3 separate regions of the Homo sapiens genome follow, and regions 2 and 3 are each linked to region 1. The links come from fine-mapping of genetic effects on gene expression. A gene starts in region 1. Each other region holds a variant in brackets. All regions are shown on one strand. Distances are between the middles of the regions.

What was found. PIP is the estimated chance that this variant, and not a neighbour inherited with it, causes the effect. A credible set is the group of variants that fine-mapping cannot tell apart.
Region 2: its variant is the best candidate, but not a certain one, in a credible set for the expression of MAML3 in whole blood (TOPMed, PIP 0.68).
Region 3: its variant is the best candidate, but not a certain one, in a credible set for the expression of MAML3 in monocytes (TOPMed, PIP 0.57).

Annotation. Positions count from the first base shown.
Region 1 is chr4:140,151,926-140,157,207 of GRCh38, forward strand. MAML3 (mastermind like transcriptional coactivator 3) reads right to left here and starts at 2,259. Exons shown (of 5, transcript NM_018717.5): 1 at 935-2,259. The coding sequence starts at 1,402.
Region 2 is chr4:139,721,765-139,727,046 of GRCh38, forward strand. MAML3 (mastermind like transcriptional coactivator 3) reads right to left here. Exons shown (of 5, transcript NM_018717.5): 4 at 3,987-4,071. It also overlaps a transcript of MGST2 not described here. Among named protein-coding and RNA genes, the nearest start is that of MGST2, 59 kb to the left of the region's middle. The variant G/C (reference allele first, on the strand shown) is at 2,355.
Region 3 is chr4:139,870,064-139,875,345 of GRCh38, forward strand. All of the region lies in intron 2 of MAML3 (mastermind like transcriptional coactivator 3), which reads right to left. Among named protein-coding and RNA genes, the nearest start is that of MGST2, 210 kb to the left of the region's middle. RefSeq lists an enhancer at 5,119-5,282. The variant A/G (reference allele first, on the strand shown) is at 2,850.

The DNA.
Region 1 (5,282 bases):
TTATTAAGCAGGCCCCCAAAGTTGGCGGGCAGCGGGGCAGGGGGCGCCAAGCGGAGAAAGACTCCGTGCACGCAAGTTTAAAAGGAAAAAAGGAAAGAATCCCAAGCGAAGTTGTGTGGTGGGGCCTCTTGGCGCAAACCCTGGGTATTGCTTTCCCCTCCCGCCCCCTCCAGGCCGCTCCCCTCTTAACCCTCCCAGCCGCTCCACCTGCCGGGCTAGCCCCGAGTCGCGAGCAAAGAGCGGAGCGCACCCGCGCCCCGCATCCGCGCGCGCTCCCGCGAGCACCCCCGCGCGCAGCCACCCTCGCTCGTTTCTCACCCACTTCAAAGTTCATTCACAAAACTCTCAGACTTTCTCAGCCCAAAGGGGGTGAGCTGGGGAGAGGAGGCGAGAGGCTCTCCTTCCCCGCTTCCCCCCTAGGGGTTGAGGGCCTGGTGCCCGCCCAGAACCTGCGACAGCATCAATATTTCCACGCACCCGGCGGATGTGCTGAGAGGGGTGGGCGTAGGGGGACGGGTCTGGGGAGGCGAGGCGGCGCGGCTAGAGGTGGGGTGGGGAGCGGCGAAGAGGAGGAGCAAGGTTTCAACTCAGGGGTTCACTCTTTCAAATCGGTATCTTAAGAAAGGGAAGGGGGGAAACTTTTCCAGCACCTCACTCCGACGCTCCTCTAGGCTCCCTCCGCCCCTCGCAGTCGTGACTGGCTTCTCCCCTCTCGCCCCCTCCTCCCCAAATCTGACAACCCTGACAGATTAACAGGTAGCGACGACGGCAGCTTTTTCCCTAAGAAAAGTTGACGTTAACCCTTAGGCTTCAGCCCACCTCACCCACCGTGCAAATCAGACCCTTGTACCCCCATGTAAGAAGCTCCACGCGCCCCCCACCACCACCACCACCCCCAACGCGCGCCGCAAGCCCGCTGCCCGTGCGCCCTCACCATGATCAGCGTGTGGTTCCTCTGCTCCGCCGAGGCAGCCTCCGCATCTTGCTGGGGTTTGCTCGGGTGCTGCTGTTTGCCGGTGCCGGCGCCCGATTTCTTGGCCCTCTGCTCCAGGGTCCGCTGGTAGAGGCTCACGGTGTCCCGGCGCTCCAGCTCCAGCTGCTCCACCTGAGCCTGCTGGTACCTGTTCTCGCAGTTGACGTGGTGCCGACGGCAGCCCTCGATGCGCTGGCGGAGCCGCTCCACCACGGTGCTGTGCTTGGGAACGGCCGCCGAACCGCCGCCGGGGCCCCCGGAGCCGCCGCATCCACCGGCTGCCGGGTGATTGCTACTCGGAGCAGCGGGAGTACTATTGGGAGTATTATTCACACCGATCCCGGCCCCGCCGAGGCTGCTGTTCAGGCTACTGTTGATGCAAATACTACTGCCATTCGCGGCAGCAGCGGGGGCTGCGAAATCCCCCATCCTGCTCCCCGGGCACACTATTTTGGAAGAACTTTTTTTATCCACCCCCCTATCAGCCTCCTCCTTGGGTCCAAGGATTAAAATAGTTTAAGTGGAACGCGGGGGAGACGCAAGCACATGGATGGAAACGGCGATCCCGACGGGGCGAAAAAAACGGGGGGGGAGATTTTGGGGTGGTTTTTGTTTCCTTTTTTTAAACTGTAAAAGCTCAAGGGGAAGAAAAGGGGGGAACGTTATCGGAATACCATCAGACACCTATCAACAAAAAGAATCACAACAAACTGAGCCAGCAGCAAATCGGGTTGCAACTCAAGGGGAGATCCGCTCCTTGCTTGCCTTCTTTTTATAATCCATTATTTTCTAATAAATTCCAGGAGATTTCCGGTGGTTGGCAAGCATTTTCTCCCTACATACCGAAAAACACACCCCATGTACACACACAAGCATATGCCTCCAGTGCGGACACGCGCGACACACACTCACTCCACACCGCATCGGAAAACGGCAAGCTTGCTTATTGCATTTTCCTTCCACAAAAAAGTTTTGGTGTTTATGCCGCCCCGTGTTCTCAAAGTACTTTGGCTGCTCAGTTGCATTTCACAGGAACCTAGATATCGAATCCTCGGGCTGGGGGAAGTAAACACATGGACAGTCCGAGGCGACTGCAAAAGTAGATCGGTGAAGTCCTTTGCAAAACGCCGCGCAGAGAGCAGCACCTAACGCTCGGCTGGGCTGCCGCTGCCGCCGCTGCTCCTGCCACCATCACAATGATCAACTGCTCGCCGCCGCCGCCGCCGCCGCCTCCTCCTCCTCCTCTCGCTCCTCCACCTCCTCCTCCTCCTCCATGCCAGCGGAGTGATATCAGGACGCGCGAGCTCAGTAAACACGGCAGCGGCGGCGGCTGGAGGCCGTGAGACAGGCCCGCGGACACGGCGCAAAACCCGGCCCGGACTCTCACCCGGCAGGAGCGGGCGCGGCACGCACCAGCACCCGGCTCCCGTCTCCGTCGCCTCGGCGCCCGGCGCCCCTCCTACGCCCCCAACCACACTACCGCCCCGCCGAGAAGCCCAGAGCCGTCGGCGACGGAGAGAAGAAAGATTCTGGGGGGATCTCAGAAATAAATCAACTTTTGACCTGTGTGTGTGCGTGAGAGCGTGTGTGAGTGTGTGTGTCTGTGTATGCGCGCGCGCGTGCGCGGGGACGCGCCTGGTAGGGTTTCCTTATTCCAAGGAAAGTATCAAGCGATCCCAAGTTGTTGTTATACATTTATGCATTATATTGCAGAACTGTGCATGACCAGGCAGAAACATTGAAGCTTTACAGCAGTTGTCTGTCATCCCTATCCATGTGGAAAGAAAAAGGCAAATGAGTGACTTGTTTTTAAAACCCAGGTAATAAGTCTGCGCTAGTAACAGCGCTACTTACGGACACTTGTTCCAAGTCTAGGCCAGACTGAACACACAAATACCAAATTCTAAATAAATAGAAATAGGCATCAAAAATGTGTAATATTTAACTCACTGTACATAATGATTGTTGTTACTAAGTCAATTATTGTTTTACTTACCCTTGGAAAAAAATAAAGCAAGCAGGGACTTGGAGGTGAGACTAACAGTACATTTAAACAGACTGTTTTGAACACTAGGTGCTAATGACAGCAGTAATTAAGGTCCTTCGTAAATCAAGTGGAAAGATTGCAGATTTCATAGACTAGAACTATAGAAAAAACACAGCATTTCACAGTTTGTCATGACCAAAACAAAAACAAGCAAAAATAACAGGCCTACTTTATTGCTGGATATATTTCTTTCCATTTCAATGAATTCACAATAAGTACAATTAAAATGGACTAGCAACTGCAGAAATCAATCTAAACTTTCCATTTTATTAAAGCACATTATCTTTCCCGATATTATCTAAAAACAAAAATAACAACTAAGGATCAAATATTCTTGAATATGGACTTAAACCATTGCATATACATATTTTTAAAAATTAAGATGGAGAAATTATTATTTCTCTAATAATCAGTAAACTATAAATCTTGATTGTGAGATGTTAATTATAAGTCATTTTGTATTATTTCAATAAATCTTAAGAATTAGTTTTTAGGGTAAAAATACACCCCAGTTTTCTAAAATAGCCAGGAATAAAAGAACTTTGGATCTTATGCATTAGTCATGAGATCTGATTTAAACCATCTTCATTTCTTGGCATTGCAGATTAGCACAGGATGCTATTTCTAACCTCATAATGTCAGCGATAAGAAGCTATATTTTTCTTCAATTAATCAGTTCTATATAGTGAACGATATTTTTAATATTCACTGGATATATGGCAAAATGGGCAGCAAAATATTTAATACGGTGTGAGGCTACTTCTAAGCAGTAAAACCAACTTAAGAGAGTGTATATTTCATTGAAGTTGCCACACTTTTTCTGAAGGCTATTTAGTTAATATACAAATTTCTGTATCAAACTGCCCTTCTTCAAGTCTCAGTCAGAAAATTTAACTGGACTACGTCTGTAGCAAAAGAGCCCGTTCAGATTCTGAAAATATGTAGAGAATTTTAAGAAATTAGAAAAAGAGGTAGCAAAGTGGCCTTTATCTTTTTCACATATTCACTAAATAATATCTCTATTAACTCAGGAAACACATGGCTTCGCCACAGAGGGGAAGCTATGACTCTGCATTCGCTTTGCTCTCTCTTCACCGTAGTTTAATTCTTTTTTTTTTTTTTTTTTTTGAGACAGAGTCTTGCTCTGTTGCCTAGGCTGGAGTGCAGTGGCGCCATCTTGGCTCACTGCAACCTCTGCCTCCCGGGTTCCAGTGATTCTCCTGGCTGAGCCTCCTGGGTAGCTGGGATTACAGGTGCACGCCACCACACCTGGCTAATTTTTGTATTTTTAGTAGAGACGGGGTTTCACCATGTTGGCCAGGCTGGTCTGAAACTACTGACCTCAGATGATCCACCTGCCTTGGCCTCCCAAAGTGCTGGGATTACAGGTGTGAGCCACTGCGCCTGGCCACACTGTAGTTTAATTGTTATCCCTCCTCCTTCACTTGCCTCCATCACCCACAAAAGACTGCAGTTTGATTTACAGAGGCAACAAATTTGAGGGTCTTAAGCACTGGGTCTTTAGTTTTTGAGACTTGGGTTCTCATTTTAGCTTTTTCCTGTGACTCAGAATTTAATTATTCATTGAGAGTTTCTCATTCTGGGGAAAAAATGACAACAATAGCAGCACCATGTATTCCCTTCAAGCTGTTTACCTCTCCTACCATGAAGGGAAACCAAAAAGACACAAGAATTTGCATCCTTCCCTTTGGGGAACCAGCAGGTGGGACAGCACACTTTGTGGTTTTACCACAGAGTTCCCCAATGACAAATGAAGCTCTTCTTGCACAACCACAGTATACTTTGCTGCCTGATTTTAGTGCATGAATGGGCTATACCCAAAAGAAAAACTGTTACATGTGTACACACAAACAAGCGCACACACAGGCACCCGTCTTTCATCTCTCCAAAATGGGAGTGGCAGCCACAAGCTCCATGCCCCAGATGTGGGGAAAGGAAGAACTGTGAAACTGTGTGATGGCCAGAGGGGAAGAATCTTTGAGAAACCGACCTGTGCAGGACTCTGCTGTGACGTACCAGAGGTCAGAAACCCCATTCTCATTGTGCAGGAAGATTAGAAGAAAGAAGCAAGAAGCAAGCAAGGCTTGCATCTTGAGCAACATATGCCAGTCACCCTGAATTAGAGATGTTGATCTACTCCAGTGACCTTAGAAGAAACAGAGACCTTTATGCTGGCTACTTCCAGATCCCATGATATGGTCCTGCAAGGTTTCCAGCTTTGTTGGTCACCTTCCTAAAGAA
Region 2 (5,282 bases), 430 kb before region 1:
TATATTTTTTTAAGCTTCATTATATCTAAGTGATTTTTTGAAAAATCGAAAGTTCCTAGTAAAACACTGGAAGGTAGTATATACTGCAACTTGTAATATTGTCATGCAGTTTTGTGACCTTAACGACTAAATTTTTATCGGCTGCATGGCCAATAAGATCAACTGTGGTGAAATGGGTTATTGAGTTGTTTATAAAAAAAGTTTAAGGGAAAAATATTGCTGAGTCAGAGATTGATTGGATAGACCCAAATTATATAAACAGTCTGATGGGCTGCTAGAAATAGATGAAAGGACATCTATAATTTGGCCATTTTGGGGTATATTTATAATGGATATGGTAAAGGACTAGATACTGTCTGGAATAATTTTGTGAATGAGAAATAGGTTCCTTTCTTTAGAGGGCAGAAGCGTTACAATGCTTTTTAATAGGCAGTGATACATTAATCCAAGCCAACCTTTATTTTTTATTTAGTGTAAATGACTGCACTATCTTGATGTAATTCTTATTTTTAAAAGGCATTTTAAAATCAGCAATTGCCACATTCTTTTTCACCTAAGGGAAATAAAAGGACTTTTATTAATCTAGTTTTATGCCTTCCGTGATTTTAAATATACAAAGGAAAAAAATTCAGATGTGTCCAAGGAATTAACTTGTCTTTACATGATTACTACATGTGTTAAACAACAGATTATGTTTTCTTTTTCTTTTTTTGGTCTAAAGCAGATATTATTGTGAGACACTGTAATCTAATTTTCTTGTCTGCTGGTTAACATCACAATGTCCAAGAAAATCTTGTATATTCAAATACAGATGATAGTATCCAACTTTTTCCTAAAAAAGTCTATGTTCTATTTTCACTCACAAGAAGCCTGTATTTGTGAAAAAAATAAGTATTTCCCCATAGTCATGTAACATTGCCCAGAGATCCAGAACCTAATGAGGGAAAGACAGTCATTAAGACCTTTGAAATGTATAATGGTGAGAGTATGGGATAGGTTCTCATGCAAGTTATACCTAACAAAACTTCTCTCCAAGAATGATATTTCTTATTTTTCAGTTTGCTATTTTCCCAGATGCATAACATCATGCTATCTAGGGTGTCTGTAAACACATGAAAATACTGAAGATAGTAAAACAAATTATATATCTCAAACCAATCAGTTCAAGGACCCTAAAATGTCACACTGGCTTTACTGATAGTATTCTCTACTGAACCGTGTTCCACGTCACGAATAGAAAATGCAAAGTGATCAGCCATTTCTTTCTAATTTAGCCCCAAAGGTGAATTCTCTCTCACCTCCAAAGAAAATAGTATCTTATTGGTTGAGGATGATATCATATCTATATGAGTGCGAAATAATTTGCTTCTGAAGTATAAACAAGAATTACATCAGGATCTGTTAAGTGGAAAAGTCAGCTTCAAAAACCCATGTACAGTACAATCCCAATTTTTGTGGGTGTCTATTTATATAGAAACAAAAGAATAGGATTGATCATCTCTGGATGGTGGGATTTCAGGTGACTTTAATTTTTGTCTCTGGTTTTTTTTGTTTCTTTTTTCTGGGACACAGTTTTGCTCTTGTTGCCCAGGCTGGAGTGCAATGGCACGATCTTGGCTCACCACAACCTCTGCCTCCTGAGTTCAAGCAATTCTCCTGCCCCAGCCTCCGGAGTAGCTGGGATTACAGGCATGCGCCACTATGCCTGGCTAATTTTTTGTATTTTTAGTAGAGACGGGGTTTCTCCATGTTGGTCAGGCTGGTCTCGAACTCCCGACCTCAGGTGAACTGCCCGCCTCGGCCTCCCAACGTGCTGGGATTACAGGAGTGAGCAACTGCACCTGCCTGGAATAGAAGTTTTTAACTGGACCCAAAACATTCAGAATAGCTCATATGTGTCTATGTTCTGTAACACAGGGGAATTATTAAATAATTCCCCTTTTCCCCCACAAATAATACATGAGTTATGAACCTGGAAAACTCAAGAGACATTATGCTGGGTTTATCAGCTTTTATGTTTTTAATTAGTTCATAATATAATGCAGCAGCTCTCAAGCGTGGTTCCCTAGCTAGCAAAATCAGTGACTCCTGGGAACTTGTAAAAAATGCAGATTCTCAAGCCCCGCTTCAGATTTACTGAATCAGAAACACTGTGTATGTTTTAACAAGCTCCGCTGGTGCTTTCAGTGCAGGCTAAAGTTTGAGAACTACAGATACAAAGGAGGGCTCTGTATCTGCAACAACAACTATGTAATGATGACTAGTCCCCACTCTTCCGAAGCTACCCATGGCAAAATTAGAAACATAATTCTTCAAAAACCACTGGCACTGATTTAGTGCACAGAACACCTGTG[G/C]ATAACTCAATTCCTTTTGTCCTTCCCTGTGTCAAGGCCAAAGGATCTAATGTGATATAAGCATTCCAGAGGTGGAAGGGAGTGGTAGCTACTCAAGACCCAGTATTTTTACAGGTGATCTTCAATGTGATCTGTCAGTAAATATCAATGGCTTTCAGACTGTAAACTACAGCTCACAGTTCATGATCTAGGATATATACATGTGGGTTTAAAACAGAAAGAAAAGTTTCTGATATGCTCTGGTAATTTCTGTTGTATTTCATTTTGAAAATGTTGGTTGTGACCCACTAAGTTGTTTCCAATAACCTTGTGTGTTGCAATCTGAGAAGTTAAAAATGCTACCTTAGATCAGAAAATTTTCACCCAGTCTATTGATAAAGTTCAGGGATACTTGTGAAATTATATAAAAGTTTGTATATATTTACATATTATATGTTTCTCTGCAAGAGGCTTCATAGCTTTTTGCAGACACTTAAAGGAATAGGTAACTTTTGAGAAGCTAGGACACATTGATCTAGATCCCACAAAATGGGCAGAGGATGGGATTAGGATTTCTGCTGCTAGGTGACCCCTGTAGCCCCCTGAAAACTCCTGTGGATAAGATTAGGAAGGCTCCTCAGGCTATTTTCTTCACCCCATATAAGACCCTCAAGGGTCTTTTTTTTTTTTTTTTTGAGACAGAGTCTCGCTCTGTTGCCCAGGCTGGAGTAGCTCACTGCAACCTCCACCTCCCGGGTTCAAGCGATTCTTGTGCCTCAACCTCCTAAGTAACTGAGATTACAGGTATGCATCACCACTCCTGGCTAATTTTTTGCATTTTTAGAGAGACAGGGTTTTGCTATGTTGGCCAGGCTGGTCTTGAACTCCTGGCCTCAAGTGATCCGTCCACCTCAGCCTCCCAAAGTGCTAGGATTATAGGCGTGAGCCACCGCACCCGGCCAAGGGCTCTCTCTATTAGAGATGGAAGGGTTTGATATTTGAACGGGCCTTCCACATTTATAAAGGAGTGCCAACACTGACATACAGTGCGCCCACTGCTACTAGGTCATGATTTAGGATTCCCGCAAACGGCTACAGGATCAGTTCAATCAGCCTCAAGGCCCTATTTGTCTTCTACATTCAAAAGAGACTAGTGGTTGTTGCAAGCCAGATTCTTCCACTTCAGCTTTAGAGGTAAGGGCTTTGGTCAGGTGACCTGCTGGGATAAGCAAAAAAGATGTGGCACAAGATTTTTGCCCCTGTAGTCACTAAGATGACGATCTAAACATAAACAAAATTGATATGCAGCCAACAGGCACCAGTATATCTTTACTGGTTGTTAAACTATTACAATACTATGTACCTTTGGTAAAGAACAGCTGTTCTAGTCCCAACTCCGACAGCTACCCTGACCCTTCCCTGTGCCTTCTAGAACCTCTCTGTGACTCAGTGACCAAAAGGTTAATGCCTGGCACAACAGGAGGCCTCTAGGAATCCATTCTGATTGGTTAGTACTCTTAACCTACCAGTAGTTACATATTTTGAGTATTTCCTGGACACAAATACAGCCAGTAAGGCAATGCCTCTGGCTACACATTCACTTACGCTTCACCACTGGAAGGTATAAAATGAGAGAGGTTGCACTGGCCTCACCTTGAAACTGATTGACCTGCTGCACTGGGTATGGATTCCGCTGTGGCTGGAGGTGCTGCCGGGGTAGATGTGATTGCTGCAACTGCTAGAACAACAGAACACAAGAGGGGTGGAGAGGTGAGATAGGGAGCAAGCACACAATTCAATATCCCAGCAGTTCCGAGGAAGGTAGTGTTTTCCCCAAAACTAAACTTTGTGTTGAAGAATCATATGCATACAGGCAAGTGCACAAAGTCTAAGGATAGAGTCAGGTAGGTTTTCACAAAACGAACACACTCAGGGCCACCAGCCCCCACATCAAGAAACAGAACGCTGCCAGGAGCCCCTCGTGCCCCTTCCAGTCATCACTCTCCCTTGACCCATGGGCATCACTGTCCTAACTTTTAACAACATAGAGCAGTTATGTCTGCTTTTGTACTTTGCAGAAAAGGATTCACATGATGCTGCTTTTGTGTCTGGCTTCTTGCATTCACCACTGTATTTGTGAGATTCATCCACGTGGATGTGAATTCTTGTTGCTTGTTCATTCTCACTGTTGGATAGTATTCCATCATATGAATATACCATAATTTATTTACCCATTCTACTAGTGATGTCACCTTTGGTGTTTCTAGTTTTTGTGTTTCAAATGTGACTGCTATGAACATTCCTGTACATGCCTTTGGTGAACATCTGTATGTATTTCTGATGTGTGGACTTGCTGGCTCATGAGGAATGCGTGCTGAGGGAAGGGGTTTTGACATGGACTGCCCAACATCAGCCTGCATGCTTTCCTTAGGCTGTGGGGACTGAGTTGAAAGGGACAAGCAACTGCTTTTTAATGACCTAAGTGGATGCTTTGGGCATAGGAAGATGACATCCTCAGGAGTTATACAAAAAAGGCTAATCTTATTCCCATGAAGCCACACTGCCTGTAAAATACATCTCTACATGTAAACTATTCAGCATTTACTGCTTTGAGGAAACCATGTGGGATTCCACATATACCAGCAGACCAGGAGGCCTGCATATTAGTCTTTCTTCTTCCACTCACGGGGATGCTGCACTGCTAGTGTTGCTACCAATATGCTGGGAAGGCTATTATCATTATCATGCTGTATGTGCAAAGGGAAAGAAAATAAGAGTGATGTAGAAAGAGCAGAGAAAGAGGTTTCAGTTCTAGGTCTGCCGTCAAGTAGCTTGCGTGACCTTGGGGATGTTGTTTAACCTGCTCCCTGCAGCTGCTGAATATTCATTAAGCACCTTTCATCTGCAAGGGCTATAAAGAATATACAACAAGGTCCCTGTTCTTTAGAG
Region 3 (5,282 bases), 280 kb before region 1:
TTCATGTCAAGGGCTTAGTACAGGTCTTGGCACATAAAGCGCTCCATGAATGGTCACTGTGAATATGTACCTTACTGTGGATCAGAGTTTCTCAGCTTCTGTACTATCGACATTTTGGGCTAGATAATGCTTTGTTGTGCAGAGACTGTCCTGTACATTGTAGGATATTTAGCAGCATCTCTGCTCTCTTACCCACTAGGTGCCAGTAGCAGCGTCAATTCCCCGTTCCCCTCACCCCACCCTACCCCTGGCCCCCAAGTTGTGACAACCAAAACTATCTCCAGATGTTGCCAAATGTCCAGTTGGTGATTGGGGAACAAAACATCTGAGGTTGAGAACCACTGCTTTAGATCAATCCAAGTTCTAGCAGATGAGAATAACTCCATTCTTCTTTTGATGTATTTATTAATATTTTTAAGCCTTGAAATGAAAAATTGCTTTTTAAGCATTAGAAAATGCATACTCTTCTTTTGAAAGCCTAGCAATAAATCCCATAACTATCAGGGTCTTCGTTTCCTCATCTTGAGCCTTATTTCAAGGCTCCCTCTGTTCTAAATTCTGACCTTGAAAACTCTATTCCTACCTCTTTCTTTTTTTGGACAGGGTCTCACTCTGTCGCCCAGGCTGGAGTTCAGTGGCGCAATCACAGCTAACTGTACCCTCGACCTCCTGGACTCAAGAGATCCTTCCACCTCAGCCTCCTAAGTAGCTGGGACCACACTTGACTAATTTTTGTATCTATATCTTTCATTTCACCAAAGATTTAAAACAATTTCTCACTATGAAGAAACTTATACAAGCAATATACATTCAACAGGAAAAATGAGGAAATTCAGATAAGCAAAAAAAGAAAGAAAGGAAAAGAAGTATCAGTTGTGTTTCCATTAGTTAGAACTACCTAGGGCTAACATGATGATGAGTGGGTTTTCAGATGTTTTTGGAATGCATGTTTGTGTGTACATACACAAATATACATGCAGTCACACAATACACACATTTTATTTCTTGTGTGCTTATCATTTTTTCATGGTATATCATTTTTTCATGGTCATTAGTTCTAGCTATCTCCAGACTTGATGCTAGACTATACATTTTTTCTCATGTATGACATTCCTCAAGAAGTGGTTCGACTCATATGTCTTTCTTTACCTACCACCTAGATAAGCCCCAAATTCACACTGTTACTCCTTTATTTCTCCACAGAAAAATAACTTTCATTACATGTACAAATGACAATTAAGCCAATTAGAGTAAACAACTTTTGGTCAATTCAGCTCTCACTTTGCCAGGAACCAATGGCCATCCTCAGTTTTTTTTAAGTATGGAGGTTTGGAAGTCAAATTTGACGCCTTTCTTCCTTTCCTGTCCCCACCCCTGCCCACAGTCACTTCCACAATCTCTTGCTTTTTCTTTGGACCTATTTCCAGGGTCACACGCAGTCAGGTCCTAATTATTTTGTTCCAGGTATGCTGTTTCCTAGCATCTCTCCTGCCAATCACTTTGATCGAGATAGTACTCTCCTCTTTTCAGAAACCTACAATGACTACCCATTGCTTCTTGTATCACAAGCTGAATCTCTCTAATGAGCTTTGAGGGGCTTCCACACTCCCCTGGGTCCTCCTCCCTGAGCTGTGTCTTCCTCAGGTTGCACTTTTTGTTCCTTATTAACCCTTCGCAACCCAGTTTCCCTACTCCCCTTTCTGATCAACAGTCCATTAAAAATAAGGTAAAACAATGCACAGTGCTGACGTCTTTTTAAAAAGAAGAAAACCCTAGGACACTAATACAATTATCCTTTTGCTTATGCTTCAGTTATCGGTTGTAACTACTTGTTACATTAATTGGGTGTATCTTTGTTACAGAGGATTAATAAATGTTTTATTTATTTATTTTAGTTTCAAAAACATGCCTTGAAATTTCACCAGATTGGGTGAAACGTGTTTACAATACTAGGAAGTGAACAGCAGGCACTAATTTTTTGTAGCAGTATTTCTCATCAAGGCACATGCATTTACCTAATCCAAAAGATGGCTAGCTTTCTCAGTTAAAAGGTATACAGAGAAATAACCCTTGCATTTGATCATTGTAACTTGGACAACATTTCACTCTATTGAATATAAACGGGAATCTGTATGCTGTTATTATTTTAAAAAAAATTTTTTAATCCAGCTTTTAGTAGAGGATAAACTTCTTAATGGCAAGGACCATGGCTTTTACTTCCTTTGTGAGGCTCACAATAATGGGAACACAGCTTCATGTGCAATTGGTCTTCAATAAATGTTGCTAGGTGATTCATATTTGAATGGGAAATGGAAAGAAAAGCCTGACGGACTTAAAGGATTTGTGTGCATGCATCTTGCTGTGAATAATACAAATGTGGAGAGAGATGACTAAGTGGACAGCATAGGGCATAGAGAGCTTTGGCCCCTGAAATACTCAGTAACAGGAAGTTACAGTGTGACTAACTGTAACCAGGTTGTGAAATGGAAAGCAGAGGAACTGGAGGATGTACTGGAAGAACTCAGGGGTGCACACAGAAGTGAACTGCAGCATCAAAGATGTAATGCCTTTCCGGGTGAGAACTTCAGAAGGAAGGACAGCACAGGGGACAAAGGAAGGGATAGAAATGATAAGTGTCTTAAAATGAAAAGGTGATGGAAAGAATTCTTAAGGCAGAAATAAAAATCCTATCAATAACAAGGTTGGGTTTAGAGTTAAAAAAATAATCACACGGCCGGGCACAGTGGTTCATGCCTGTAATCCCAGCACTTTGGGAGGCTGAGGTGGGTAGATCACCTAAGGTCAGGAGTTTGAGACCAGTCTGGCCAACATGGCAACACCCCGTCTAT[A/G]CTAAAAATATTAAAAAAATTAGCCGGGCATGGTGGTGGGCGCCTGTAATCCCAGCTACTCAGGAGACTGAGGCAGGAAGAATTGCTTGAACCCAGAAGGTAGACGTTGCAGTGAGCTGAGATTGTGCCACTGCACTCCAGCCTGGGAGACAGAGTGAGACTCCATCTCAAAAAATAAATAAATAAATAAATAAATAAATAATCACGCAGATATTTTGTTTCCTACTTTAAATAAAAGCAAGGCTTCACATTTGACCACAGAATGTTGTATTGCTTCTCTGCTATGTGGCACAGCTTTGATATCAGGTCCAGGACTGCTAAGTGAAAGAAAAGAAATTTCTGGTATGTTTGGAGCCTATGATTTCATCCCTCCTCTCACTCCAGCACATCTGATCTATGTATCCTCAAAAATGGAGCTGCTCACCTTTGCCAGCTCAGTTCTTCCCATCCTAAGCTTTCCTGAGCCAGTACCACTTAAGCATGTTATAAAATGCCAAAGCCATTCATGGTCATTATGGTGTCCACAAATATGTTCACAAATTCTTGACACTCCCTTCAGAAGGGAGAACCTAATCCCTCTCTCCTGGAGTGTGGCTGGACTTAAATTATTTTGCTTCTAATGAATGAAACAATGAAGAAACGAAGGTGTGTGATTTCGATAGTATGTCATGAAATGAACTGTGGCTTCCTCCTTGGTCTCTCTTGAAGCTGACTCAGGGGAAGCCAGCTGCCATGTCATGAGAAAACTTAAGCAGCCCTGTGGGGAGGTCCATGTGGTGAGGAACTGAGGCCTCCAGTCAGCAGCCATGGGAGGGAGCCACATATGAAGTAGAGTCTCCAGCCCCAGTCAAGCCTTCAGATGACTGCAGCCCACTTGACAGCTTCACGGTAGCCTTATGGAAGAGCCTGAGCCATAACCACCCAGCTAAGCTGCTCCTGCATTCCCTTGAAAACCATGTAAGATAATAAATGTTTGTTGTTTGAAGTGGCTATGTTTTGAGCATAAGTTGTTACACAGCAATAGATAACTAATATGGTAATCTTTCCAATAGAGCTCTTCTTTACTTTGGAGTTAAGTTTTTAAGTTTTATTAAAAGGTCTTTTCATTATTTTGGAATATGTGTTTACCTGCATTTAATATGTAAATGGATCAGATGTTATAAAATGTTCAGGTAAATTAAATCCCACCTTCTTTTTTAGCTTCTGATTTTAACAAAGAGAAATGATTTTTCTCATCTACTGAGGTACCAGAAACAATGAGGGTACTGTAAGGCCTCAAAGAGTCTAACAGACCTCTAGAGTTAGGAGTGGGGAGTGGCTAGATTATGTCTTGAGATGTTTTCCTCATTTAAAATCATTTAACATAAACAAAAAAGATGGCATTTTAATATTGTACTTTAAAATATGAAAAATAAATAGTTTTTATTTTAAATAGAGGTAAATTATGCAGGAGGAACAATCTTGTCAGAGCCAAGATTGATTTTTTTTAAAAAAATCACCAGTGAAACTTGCTAACAGTTGGCTTTTAAAAGAGAACAGTAATACACTTTTACCATTTTGTTTACAGTCCCTGTCTATAAAATTTTCACATATATATGATAATATATTTCTTCCAGAATCTTTCTATCTTTGTATGCACAATGCCTAGACACCACAGGCACATAAAATATGTTGAATGAATGAATGAATGAATGAAACTGGCTTAAAGGAAAACTGAAGAAACTTACACTCTCCTAGAGGATTAAAAAAGTACAAATCACACGATATGATTAATGTTTTTAATTTTAAAAACACAGTACATCCTATGGGTCTGATACTATTTTAAATGCTTAACGTAAACTAATACACAGAGTCATCCTAATATCTCTATTGATTATCATCCCCTATCTTTCCTTTTTTTTTTTTTTTTGAGATGGAGTCTTGCCCTGTCGCCCAGGCTGGAGTGCAGTGGCGCGATCTCAGCTCACTGCAAGCTCCTCCTCCTGGGTTCACGCCATTCTCCTGCCACAGCCTCCCGAGTAGCTGGAATTACAGGCGTCTGCCACCACGCCCGGCTAATTTTTTGTATTTTTAGTAAAGATGGGGTTTCACCATGTTAGCCAGGATGGTCTCAATCTCCTGACCTCGTGATCTGCCCACCTCGGCCTCCCAAAGTGCTGGGATTACAGGCGTGAGCCATCATGCCCAGCTGATCATCCCCATCTTCTAGATGAAAACCTAAAGTACAAACAGGTTATATAACCCGCCCAAGGTCCTGCAAGTTCTGAAGTGGTAAAGTCAGGATTTGAAGATCTGTTGTGGCTTCAGAGCTGACTCCCGACCTCTACACTCTGCCACCCTCCCTACGAAGGCAGCTCCTTATATGATCCTACCTGATGTCATACCTAGGCAGTTCTCAAGTCAGGAGAAGGTGGAAGTGGTGGGAGCGCTGCA